Linked DNA regions of Homo sapiens: all the other regions are linked to region 2. Evidence: fine-mapped expression QTL. A gene starts in region 2. Each other region holds a variant in brackets. All regions are shown on one strand. Distances are from middle to middle.

Region 1 (4,228 bases), 370 kb before region 2:
GATATTCTCATTCTCATTCTTTCTCTCTCTGTATATCTTCTTGTTTAGCCTCTCTAGGCATTTGCATTCTACATTCCATATGAATTATAGATCAAGGGCACTTCCAAGCTCCCTGGGAGAGAGCCTGCATCATGCAGACTGGGGATCCACTGTACTGCCCATCACATTCATTGCCTGGCTCATGACAGACACACAGGAAATATTTAGCATGTTGAGTGGACTTTTCACACAAGTAGAATCTCTATTTTCTTAGGGTTTCTGGGTATATGGTTTATGAAACTATATGTCTACACTGGGGTCTGCATGACATATTTAATCCTTAGTAGGACACATATCAATGTGATATCTAAGGACTATATAATACCCTGATTCAACTTTGGGGTTTTAATAGAGATTTCTAGAAAAAAGAGTTCTCATTGAGGCTTTGAGTGTGACATGATTTCTGAAGACATATGTAAACAAATCCTGGGATATTAAATTCTGAAACAGAGTTCAATCCTAAAGGCCCAATGTGACCACTACATTGAAGAATAAAAAAATCTCTCCATCTCCATCTCTGGCATCAGAGGACCCAATCACAGCTTATTACCTGGTGAAGCCACCAATCTCCAGCTGGTTTCCTGTAACTCATGTTTTTCCTTGTGGAAAATCATCATCCCCACCATCTTTACCATCATCAACCAAGTCCTTGCCATGTGCCAGGCATGGAGCTAAGCACTGTTGAGACATTATATCATTTGGTCCTCCTAGTAGCCTTCTAAAGTGAATACCATCGTGAGTCCCATTTTAAGGATAAAGAGGCTGGGCACGGTCACTCATGCCTGTAATCCCAGCACTTTGGGAGGCTGAGGCAGGCGGATCACTTGAGATCAGGAGTTTGAGATCAGCCTGGCCAACACAGTGAAACCCTGTTTCTACTAAAAATACAAAAATTAGCCTGGCATGGTACTGTGCACCTGTAGTCCCAGCTACTTGGGAGGCTGAGGCAGGAGAATCACTTGAACTCAGGAGGCAGACATTGTAGTGAGCTGCGATCGCACCACTGCACTCCAGCCTGGGTGACAAAGTGAGACCCCATTTCAAAATAATAACAATAATAATAATAATAATTTAAAAAAGGATAAGGAAGTAGGCAAAGCAAATTGCCTAGTTACACCCTTGGAAAAGTGGAACAGCTAGGGATCAAAGCCAAGACTACTAGAGCTGAGAACTAAACAGACTCCCTGAGATGGCAGAAACACAGCAGTTCCTAAGTGATGAGCCGGGATTCTTACCCTCAGAGTCCCTAAATAACCAATAAACACCAAATGAATAATGATTCTGTCACACACTTTTTTGCTAATTCTTTTTTTAAAAAAATCTTTGGTTTTTTGTTTGTTTGTTTTTGAGGCAAGGTCTCACTCTGTCACCCAGGCTGGAGTGCAGTGGTGAGATCTTGGCTCAACACAACCACCACCTCCCAGCCTCAAGCGATCTTCCCACTTCAACCTCCTGAGTACCTGGGACTACAGGTGCAAGCCACCACCAACCCTGGCTAATTTTTGTATTTTTTTGTAGAGACGGGATTTCGCCAAGCTTTGGGAACCTGGAGCTTTTATAATAGACAATAAGCCTACCTGAACTTTGACTAGGTGGACATCAAAAGTAGGAAAAAAATCTCAGATGCTCCACAGTTCTTGAACATTTCCTCCATCCTGGAACAGCAGAAACTCCCCTGGACTGAAAGTTCCAATAAGCTCTTTCTGGGAGGTGTCACCCATGGCAACGACAGCTGTGAGGTCATTGCCTCTGACACTTCCTTCACCACTAGTCATCCCAAGAGGAAAACAATAAGAGGGAGGAAAAGAAACTCTTACAGGTGGAAGAATAAAAAATAAAAATAATGCTGTTGATGGTGATGAGGAGGATGAGGATAATGATGTCAACAAGGAAGAGAACAGCAAGGTGGATGATGATGATGACAAAGGGCTGATGATGACAGTGATGAGGCTGATGATGACGTTGATGAGGCTGATGATGACACTGATGAGGTTGATGATGATGACAATAAGGCTGAGGATGTCGATGAGGATTATAGTGATGACAATAATTTCCAGACCAGCCACCATTTGCTGAGCTCTTCCTGCCTGGTGAGCACACACGTTGTTTCACTGAATATTCATAATATGCCTGCAAGGTAAAAAAA[C/AC]TCCATATTCTCTCACTTCCTTTAAAAATCTTTATCCTACTCTGTCTTTTTAAACTGCCACTCTTTGCCAATTACAATATGTAATCTCGACCCCAACAACACATTCCTAGGCCCCTTACCTTGGTCTACTTTTTCCCCACTACACTGATCACCTCCTAACATGCTATGTGGCTTACTATGTTTATTGTTGATGGTCTCTCTCTCCCAGCTGGAATGGAAGCTCCATGAGAACCTGGATTTTTGTCTGTTTTATTCACTGTTGCATGCCAAATATGCAAAAGGGTACCTGGTCATAACAGACCTTCAACAAATATTAAATACATGAATGAACTTAGCTTTATGTGTTTTGGGGAAATGTCACAACCTCCCCGGACTTTAGATTCCATGGCCTTAAAATGAGAGCTTGGTGGCGTCTATGGCTTGACCCATTCCTGAAATCCTGGAGCTCCACAGATGTCTGTGCATTAGTCTTCCTATATCATTACATGACAGAGTCATCATTTTACTTTTGTCAACTGTTTCAGGTTGGATTTTATTCCTTAATCAGTCACTCGTTCGTTTAACCAATTAAGCATTTTCGAGTTCTTCTGGACCTAAGCACTGTCAGTGAGCAGTTCCAGCAGACACCAGGAGCACGTGGGGTGGAAGTGGTGCTTGTCATAATGAGGTTCTGAAATTCTGACAGGTGAGAGAGAGCTGCCACCTCGCCAGCTGGCTTCAGCTGTGCAGGAAGTGTAGAGCCAGGAGGCCCTCAGAACCTTTTGCTTCCATGGATTTGAGGTACTCGAGAGTCACGGGGCCTGGGTTTTGTGGGGTCTTTGGCTCTGGGTTCTCTTTCTTTCTCAATCCCCCACTTTTATTGCCCCCTACTGACACACATTCATCTTACTTTTAAGCAGATGTCTATCTCATTGACACACTGAATTTGCATATGGTTGCACACTGGAGCAGAAGGAGGTGAGGGTTTAGGGTTCTGGTGTGCAGTAGGATATTCAATTCAACCGTCACATAGATAAAGAAACTCCTGAATGCACGGCTCTGTTCTGAGTGTTGGGAATACAAAGATGGCTCAAGGTGCAGTATCAGCCATCACAGGCTCGTAGTGGGAGGCAGGTTTATAAGTAAAGAATCCACTTTGGGAGCCTGAGACGGGAGGATCATGAGGTCAGGAGATAGAGACCATACTAGCTAACATGGTGAAACCCCGTCTCTACTAAAAATACAAAAAAATTAGCTGGGCGTGGTGGCGGGTCCTGTAGTCCCAGCTACTCAGGAGGCTGAGGCAGGAGAATGGCGTGAACCCAGGAGGTGGAGCTTGCAGTGAGCCGAGATAGCACCACTGCACTCCAGCCTGAGCAACACAGCGAGACTCCGTCTCAAAAAAATAAAATAAAATAAAAAACAAGTAAAGAATCACAAAACAACACCGTGAGTGCTTGATCTTGCAGGGGGTAATGTCATTCAGAGAAGAGAGACAGCCAGGGAGCATGCTTCTGCCAGGACATCCACCATAGTCCACAAGAAGGGATTTTCAAGATAGGTCTCAAAAAAGTGATTCGCAGATTGCCAAGTGGGGAAGTGTGGTGGGGAGGACAAAAAGTGGTCCGATAAAAGGAGTCAGTGGCTGTGAAGGCCTGGAGAGAGGAGGGCTTGCCAGGCTCAGAAGATATGCACTTGGTGTGGAGCTGGAGCACAGGGGAGGTAAGAAGGAGGCTCCATCCCTGGGATTCAGCCCAGCATGTGTCACATAATGGTGCCTAATAAATATTGATTGAAAGAGTAGATGAAGAAATAAAATGGGAAGAAAATACCTGCCACACAGAAGAGTTGCAAATTTTAAGACCTTATCTTGTTTACCCATCAGGCTCCTCTGTTGAGAATTCAGGTCCCTTGAGACAAAGTCTGGGTCATGCTCTCTACAGAGCCTCAGTTTCCAGCTCAGGCCTGGCAACCTGGGCCCTTGCACAGAAGACACAGGGAGGGTGACGTGTCTCCCTCTGTGCCTGTCCATGCAAAGCTACCCTTAGCAGGCCTGGGGGCTTT
Region 2 (4,218 bases):
TGGTGAGCCAAGATCACACCACTGCACTCCAGCCTGGTCAACAGAGTGAGACTCTAGCTCAAAAAAAAAAACAAGAAAGAAAAAGAAAGGATTTCATGAAGTTTGGCAGTGACTTTCATAGAATAAACAGCTAATTCTCTATGTAACACTGAAAATCGAGACGTTTGCTTTTCAGTGTTTCTCCCTACCCCTACAAGTTTCTGAACAAATAGAACCTAGACTTACAAGCTTACTTATTACACAGGGTAAGCTACTGGCAAACAAAACCCAATACCTGCAGTATAAGTTACAGAAGAAGTAGCTTTCATGCAAAAGCCTCTTCTAATTGGGTGCTTAGTTTTTTGACAAAATGTGGCCATCCTCCATCCATTCTCCTGTTGCTCAACTCATCTTCTCTCTAGTCATATCTCTGTACCCTCCTATCTCCTTAGAATACCTATGTCTGATGAATACACATGCAAACAAATGTTCAGCTAGAGAGCTCTATGCATTTGGGCTCCAGTCCAATCTCTAACACTGTGCCAATGTCACCAAAAAAATTTGAGTAAGTCATTTCATATCTGGATCTCTAAGAAATTACTTAACCGAAAGGAAATGTATCATCTAGTTACTCATTCAAAAAATGCAACGGAAACATATTTTGCTAAATACCTAAAACAAACACAATTAATATAGACATGATTGCCTATTTTTTGTCAGGTTTTAAATCTACCTTTAGCTTCTGAAAACTAAATTAGCTTCTAAAAACTGAACTCTCAAAACATCAGCATTGTAGTGGAAAATCCTAATGAAACGCTGGCCAGTCTGGGATCCAGCCCACTTCTAAGGACAAAATAAAGGCCAAATACTTGAGTGTCAATTTATGTAAACACTGACAATGGCGACCATAACTGGCTTTACTGCAAAAATACATGCATAATATTCTGTAATCAGTAACTTAATGGTTATCATTTAAATTAAAAAAATCCTAAATTCAAGCCACCTGTACTTAAGCAACTTAGTAACTAAGCAATTTAGGAACCACTCTTCCTACATAAACATTTATACTTAAGAACACTAGCCAAGAAAACAAACTGGTAAAGATATGGTCACATTACCTTGATCAGTGTTCAAATCATGCATTTTCAATTGATGATCTAGTCCTCCACTCCAGGCATGCGTTGGATCCTATAAAATAGTTTTGAACCGTTTAAAAACTAGAACTTTTGAAAGGGTTTCAACATTCTTATTTCTACAAGCAAGTGTTCAGTTTATGCTCGGGATATGCACTGGGCTCAACTATTCATGGTAAACAAACCAAAAAACAGCATAAAAAAGCAAGTGGTCACTAAACTCCTGTGTCTGGAAATTAAAGGAGGGCTGCTTTATCCTAGCCAACACGCTAGCTGAGGGTAAACATACATTTCCCCTAAACGGTTCCTTTCAATACGGCAGCCAAAACAGTATTGTTGCAAATATAATGATCGTATTTTCAGAAAGTTTAGAGTTACTCCACAAGCGTGTAACAGAAAAGGGGAGACGGAGTTTCCAATGTCTGCATGTCTCCAACCCAAAACGGTACAGGTTCAAGGCAGATGCTCCTGAAAAGCTAAAGAACTGTCCAAATAACCCCACCGACAGACGCCTCTACCCAACACTGGAAAAGAAACGCTCCTCACGTGGAGAATCGTTAACACAGTAAGAGGGCAGGAGCAGGGCGGGAGGGCACCTACGTAGAAGGCGCAGTCCAGGACGGCGCCGGTGTGCTGGTACTTGAGCCGCATGGAGTTGGCCGGCACATCGTAGAGACGCACGGACGTGTCCCAGGAGGAGACAAGCAGGAACTGGGAGGTGTTGGGGCTGAACTTCACGGAGGAGATGCCATCCTCGGGTGGCTGGTTCAGCTTGAACTCGTTAGAACCGGTCATCTGCAGAACAGGCGCCCAGAGTCCCCAGGGGTCCCGCGGGCTGGGGCTGCGCACTGACAGCCTGGCACTGGGGGTCCCCCCAGAGGGAGGGGCCGAGAGGACGACCGCGAGGAGACTCTGCGCTTGCGCCTGCGCCGAGCACTCGCCCGCCAAGGTCCGGACTCGCCCCATCATCCGGCCCCCGCCGCGCCCAAACCGGCCCAGCCCGCACCGCCGTCCCCCTAAACCCAGCCCGGCCCACAGCGATGCCCGGACCCCAGACTGTTCCCTTTCCCCTCTCCCGGGGTCCCGTCGCCCCGGGCACTCCTAAAAATAAAGGGAAAACAACAGAAACGAAACGGGATCCCCTGCGAATCGAACGGCCCTGCCAGTTGCGGACCCGGGAAGTCCCTGGAGAGCCCGCTCCCGCACACCGTCGCCTCGCCTCCCTACCTTGGGCTCCCCTCAGAAGCAACGTTTCCACTACTCGCCACTCGCTGCGGCCGCCGCCGCCTCCTTGCTTCCCTCAGAACACTCGCAGGCTAGGCGAAGGAGGCGGAGAGGAAGCTCCAGTGTAGACCTGCCATTGGCTGATTTCAAACGCCAACGTCTCAGTCTAGGGGGCCGATTGGTCCGCTCAGCTGCCCAGCATCGGTCAACCCAGTCATCCTGTTCCGGCTCAAAGGGAAACCGCTGCTTTTCCGATCACGTGGGCTCATTTTACCACCGCGCTGGGGCATCAGCGTTCGAGCTGGACGCGTGGAAACTACACCTCCCAAGGAGCATCGCGCCAAGGCTCTGTTCATGCCCTCTCCCGCCTGCGTATGGCATTCTGGGAAATGTAGTTTTCTAGGGGCTGACGCTCTGCCCGCCCTCTTCATAGAAAGCGGGAAAGATCTTTACAGCTCTGTCCATGGCGCCCTCCCCTTGAAGTTAGTCTCTGAAACACAAGAATCCCATTTTGGGCAATACTTATATAGTCCTAAAGTTGTCTCCCTATCCCTGGGCGTGCACACGCCCGTGAAGCTAACCAAAAGTTGATGTAGAGGAGGAAATATTTGCTCTATCAACTGCATTATTTTGCCTTGATTTTTTTTTTCTCATTTCTTGGGAATTTCCACCTATAAACCAGGGTCTCCCATTTCCCATTGTCTCAAGTTCTGCTGAAGAAACCCATTCATATTTATATTATGCTTTATCTCTCCACCCCATCTTTCCACAAACATTTATTGAGCCTCCACTGGCGCCAGGCCTGGTGAGAGGCTCTGGAAAGATGCATGTAATCAGACCAGCCTTTGCCCTTCAGGAACCCCCCTTCAGAAGGGTGAACAGCCTGGGAGACAGTACTCTGCAATGTGTTAAAGCTCCCACCACTTCTTTTAGAGCTCTTTTTTGAAGGGTCCTGAAACGACAGCTACAAGCCTCTCCCCTTCCACTCTGTCCTGCCACTCCCCAAAGTTGCAGGCTCAGTGTGCTCCATTTGCTGTTTTCTAGAATCCTCTAGAAATGAGGATCAAGAAGGTTGCTTGAGTATGAGAAATTATTTTATCTCCATGAAAGAAAAGCAATACTTAATCAGTAGAATGAAGTGACTGAGTTATTCTTGAATGTCAAAGGCTCACTGAAAAATTTCAATTTAATCCATGCTTTAACCGCTTTTTCACTGCCTTTTGTAAAAGAAAAATATATATCGTTTTATTTGATTTTGTGTGAAGTGAGAGAAAATTGTGGGGTTAAAGTGATTAACTTTTAAGGGACATTAATGAGAAAGTGTTGATGATCTTTATGCATTCACACACCCTGAATTGGATGCACCTCTTTCTGTGATTCCTGACACAAGAAACACACATACAACAACAACCTTTCTGCCTACTGCATTGATGACATTACTGCTGAAAGACTCTTGCCCTCCTTCCTTGCCAGTCCTGGTACTTGGTTCTCTATCTCTTCTCTTTCCACAAGTTAATGGCTGAATTCAAAATTTTGAAATGCAGTTCCTTACTTCCATTCTAACTTTAGCTAAATAATTTTACCTCCTGACTTATCTGGTTCCTTCTCCCAGTTGTTTATTTAATTATATTATTGTTCCAAGATTCTGAGCATGAATTACCCACTAATAAAATCTAAGTGTATTTCATTATCCAGTGTGTGTATGATTCAGGTCCCTCTGGGCATGCAGTTGCAGCCCGACTCGATTTGAGTTTTAAGAAACGTCAATCTTTTAAATCCAGTTTAGAGGCTGAAAGGAGGCTGATGATTTTGCTGATTATTCAAATGAATTGATAGTCTTGAGACAGGAAATCTGGCAACAATGGAGTCCTGAACATTTAAA
Region 3 (4,228 bases), 510 kb after region 2:
TTTGGTATTTAATATTTTTATTTTTAATATAATATTTATTTAATTGTAAGACTCTACAATTTAATTTTTAATAATGGCCACATAACATCCAGCTTGTATGATTTCTGAAAATGCAGCATTTCACAGACACAGGTTTCCCGAGAGGACCTTCTCCCTCCAGTCAGTGCACACCTGAGTGGCCTTGCCAAGCACTCGGGACACTAAGTACTCCAGCCAACACAGGCAATGGGAAGAGATGCTGAGGTCAAAGTTTCATCCCCTACAGGAAACGACCATTGGCTGGGGCTGTCCCTGATTCCCACACACCAGAAGCCATTCAGGTGCCATCAAACCTGCAGAGGATAGAGCCCCTGCCCAGGGCAGAACCCCTTACTAGCCACTGCAGGGATTTGGATGCCAGGAACAGGGCTGGAGGGGACAAGATCTCAAGGGGCTGCTGAATGCCACCTTCAGCCTGTGGTAGGGACCAGGCAGAAAGGGGAGCTACCATCCACTCTGTTGTCAGACAGTAGATCGGATTCTGTCCCCTTAAAGTAATGGAAAGGAGCCAGGACAGGCTTTCACAGGAGTCCTTTATTAGAGCTGAAAACTGTGGAACCCCTTCCTGTAATGGACAACCACGGGCACTCACAGTAAACACAGTAACAAGTTCTTCAGGAATAAAATAGCTCCAAGGTTGTTCTGCAGCGCCCTCTGGCACTGGCAGGTGGGATAACAGGAGGATGGTGAGATGCTGTGGTTCGAAGGGGCTGGAGGGCAGCCTCTGTCCCTACAAGGTCACAGGAGACAGCTCAAAACAGGTGCCATGTGGCCCGGCCTTGTGTTCTCTTGGCCCCTGGTTGTCAGTCACTCTGCTGAAGGTGGAGCCTGGAGCAGGATCACCGGGCTATGAGCAGGTACTGGAGGTGCGGAGAACTTGGAGGAGCCACCACAGGTCAAGTGAGTAGTCCCGTGGGGCCAGCTGGGGTGTGGGTGTGGTGTAGACATCACAACCCTCCTTTAAGCCCTCCTTTTGCACCTGGTACCACATCTTACATAGGAGCTGCAGACAGGAGTGTGTCTGATGCAGTTCTCTGTGCAAACTCAATGTGAGGCCAGGCCTCCTGGGCTCCTGGGCTCCTGGTGCCTTGGGGATGATGGAACAGGGAGGAGGGAACCTAGGACCAGAAGTCAGTGACCCCGACTCAGACCCCAACTCTGCCACTCGCTACCTGAATCCTGTGCAGTTCTGTGCTGACTTGCCTCTCTCAGCCTCAGTTTCCATCCCTGCCAGGTGAGAATAATACCTGGCCACATGGAGGATTAGAGGATTATGTCCAAGGTGCCAGGCTGGCAGAAGATGCTTAATCAGTGTTTCCTCCATGGCATGTTCTTATGGATGGCAGAGGCTGGGGCAAATATGAATCAGCAGAAATGAGGCACTTTAGGTCAGTGGGATTTTGATACGGTCTTTTGGGACTTGGAAAGTAGATCTTTCAGGAACACTCAGGGCAAGCCTGCTGAGAACCCCGCACCAGGGTCCCCCTCATCCTCACAGCAGGGACCCATAGTCTCCACTGCTCCTTCTTAAGCACAGGGCACAACCTGGACTCTCTCAGAGGGATTTAAGGAGTCCTAAACCAGCAGCTCTCAATCTTGGAACAACCTGAGTCTGGTGGGTCACCAATGTCCAGGCCTACCCTCTGATTAGATTCTGATCTAACTGGCTTGGGTGCAGCCTGGCAGCAGCAGGTTCAAAAGCCCCCGGGCCATTCTCACGTGCAGTAGAGTTGAGCACCCTTGCCTCAAACCACAGTCTCAGTTGCTGGGAATCACAGCCACTTGGTGTCAGCCCAATCCTCCCTGAGTGTGGAGATGTGGTGTGGATGGGGAGGATGGGTCCC[T/C]GCTCCCAAGCAAGCCCACTTCTCTGTGTCCCCTGTGACTGGACCCTCAGTCACACTCTGACAGCTTTAGTCCAGAGCCCCTGTCACCGGTGGCCCTGTCTTCTGCTCTACCTTTCACCTGGACCTCACTGCCTCTTGCTACCAAACTCATCTGTCCCTACTAGCCACTCTCCTGGCTGGGCCCTGCTGATAAAGGGGCCATTACCTCCTTCCTTGAGAGGCTGCCAAGTGGCTAACACTGTGGTGGTTATCTGTGAAGAAGCACTGGCTACTGGGGCTATTTTTAAGGAGAGGGGACACTTCAGGAGGTGGAAATGTTTCCTGTGGAAATAAATTTCCCCTTATAATGGTGACCCCTGCATGACCCCTCTTTGTATCCACAGGTTCAAGTACAGAGCCTGGCTTGGGGCTGGCGCTCATGGGGACCACTCAGGGCAAGCCTGCTGAGCCCCCAGCCCCAGGGTCCCCCTCATCCTCACAGCAGGGACCCACAGCCTCCACTGCTCCTTCTCAAGCACAGGGTACAACTTAGACATTCATGAATGAGTGAATGAACGAATGAATGAATGAATGAATGAATGAACGAACGAATGAATGGATGGAGTTGGGATTCCATGTTGGGTTCCCAGCCTCTGAACTTTTTTGAATTCTCGGATGTCTGACTTGCCACTTTGTTACTCTGATTGATGTGTACCTCAAACCCGCACACCACTCCAGCTTCCTGCTGCTTCTGCATCTGCTCAGATCCAGTCCTGGGCTGGTGCCTGCATTCCACTGCATTGACATTGCTTTTCAGGGCAGACTCATGGTCACAGGGGAACCCTTAAGGCTTTCCTTAACTGCCCCAGCCTGGGAGGTTAAGGGTGAGTGTTGGGGGTGATGGCAAGGAGAATGGAAACCAACAAGAGACAGTCCCTGGGGCCCCCTAGCTCCTCTGACTCCTGGTAGGGCTCAGGACGCACTCTGAATCCCACGGAGGCTCATGGCGTCTCACCACAGCTGCCGGTGGTGGGCAGCTCTTGGGCAGCCCTAGTCAGAGCTGGCAGCTATGGCCAAGTCTCTGCTGGAATTCTCTGTCCCCTTGTCCTGGGGTTTCCCCTGTAGCCATTGCCCTGCTGGGGTCTCATGCAGCTCAACTCACACATCCAGAGTTAGGCTGTCTTAGCTGTCCCCTCTTGGGACAGGGGTCCTGAGATTGGCTTCATGGGGCAAACACTGGCATTGCCAGGGCAGTACACAAAAGCTCCCATTCCTGCCAAGCCTGACCTAGGAGCCCTGAGCCTGATATCTCTCTGATTTTCTAGGCAAATGTACTGCTTCCTTGGAACCCAGCTCATCCCTTTGTTTCTTCTGAGCTCCTTGGGTCACCTGTCAATCTCCTTCTCTCTGGAGACCTCATGCAAACAGGACTCCCTTCCTAAGGGCCCTAAGGAGTTTGCTTCTTTCCCTGAACCGCCCCAGCCCATAGTTCTGGAGATGAAGTGTCAAAAACCAAAAGAGGCAGATCCCTAGAGAAATGGAGGCAATCATCTTTAATTTTCAATCACAGCCACTGAAACTTACAATGCATTTAGCATTCTTGTCTTTCTCCAGGCTGCATCCTGCATATCCTGCTTTGGGAAGAACCAACACTCCAAGGACACTGGGAAGACACACGAGTTGCCCCTTCTCATTCTGTATGACAACCACCCCACCTGTCTGCTTAATTTGAAAGGATCTAGTTCTTAGGAGAAACGAAGGCAACAGTGGCCAAATTGACACTTACTCTGAAAAAGGTTCTTTATTCAGCTGGCTCTACCCTAAGGAAAGGCTGAGATTTATGCTACAGGCCTAAGAAGCGAGCTTATAAAAGGTCAGAAAAGAGGCCGGGTACAGTGGCTCACACCTGTAATCCCGGCACTTTGGGAGGCCTAGGCAGGCAGATCACTTGAAGTCAGGAGTTTGAGACCAGCCTGGCCAACATGATGAAACCCCGTCTCTACTAAAAATACAAAACTTAGCTGGGCATGGTCTAGCCTGTCTGTAATCTTAGCTACTAGGGAGGCTGAGGCAGAAGAATCGCTTGAACCCAGGAGACGGAGGTTGCAGTGAGTTGAGATTGTGTCACTGCACTCAAGCCTGGGCAACAAAGCAAGACACTGTCTCAAAAAAAAAAAAAAAAAGGCTCAGAAATTCCACCTAGAGAAAGCTCTGCTGTTACTAATGTTTGGCTTAGAGTTGCAGGTGAGGCTTTAGACGTTAGCACCTGTTTACCTTTGACATTTTGACCCAGCACTGAGCCTTCGGATCTGGGGAAAACCTCGCTCCACCTTTCTTCACCCCACCTCTACCCACCCCATCTTTCT

Alleles and levels. Positions count from the first base shown, and alleles are read on the strand shown. Sizes are in standard deviations (SD) of each study's normalised expression. Not every link is listed here.
For the expression in esophagus mucosa of the gene that starts at base 2,423 in region 2, T is the high allele of the variant in region 3 and C is the other (small effect, 0.21 SD a copy in GTEx).

What was found. PIP is the estimated chance that this variant, and not a neighbour inherited with it, causes the effect.
Region 1: its variant is fine-mapped to the expression of BUB3 in monocytes after interferon gamma (Fairfax 2014, PIP 0.95).
Region 3: its variant is fine-mapped to the expression of BUB3 in esophagus mucosa (GTEx, PIP above 0.99).

What each region holds. Positions count from the first base shown.
Region 1 is chr10:123,521,793-123,526,020 of GRCh38, reverse strand. It overlaps LINC02641 (long intergenic non-protein coding RNA 2641), which reads right to left. Exons shown (of 12, transcript XR_007062326.1): 9 at 1,617-2,169. Among named protein-coding and RNA genes, the nearest start is that of GPR26, 140 kb to the left of the region's middle. The variant C/AC (reference allele first, on the strand shown) is at 2,186.
Region 2 is chr10:123,152,607-123,156,824 of GRCh38, reverse strand. BUB3 (BUB3 mitotic checkpoint protein) reads right to left here and starts at 2,423. Exons shown (of 8, transcript NM_004725.4): 1 at 2,340-2,423; 2 at 1,713-1,907; 3 at 1,098-1,167. The coding sequence starts at 1,907. RefSeq lists enhancers at 1,773-1,842, 2,573-2,732, 2,569-2,738, 2,458-2,752 and a cis regulatory region at 2,653.
Region 3 is chr10:122,645,371-122,649,598 of GRCh38, reverse strand. No RefSeq gene overlaps it. Among named protein-coding and RNA genes, the nearest start is that of SPADH, 25 kb to the left of the region's middle. RefSeq lists an enhancer at 1,972-2,266. The variant T/C (reference allele first, on the strand shown) is at 1,884.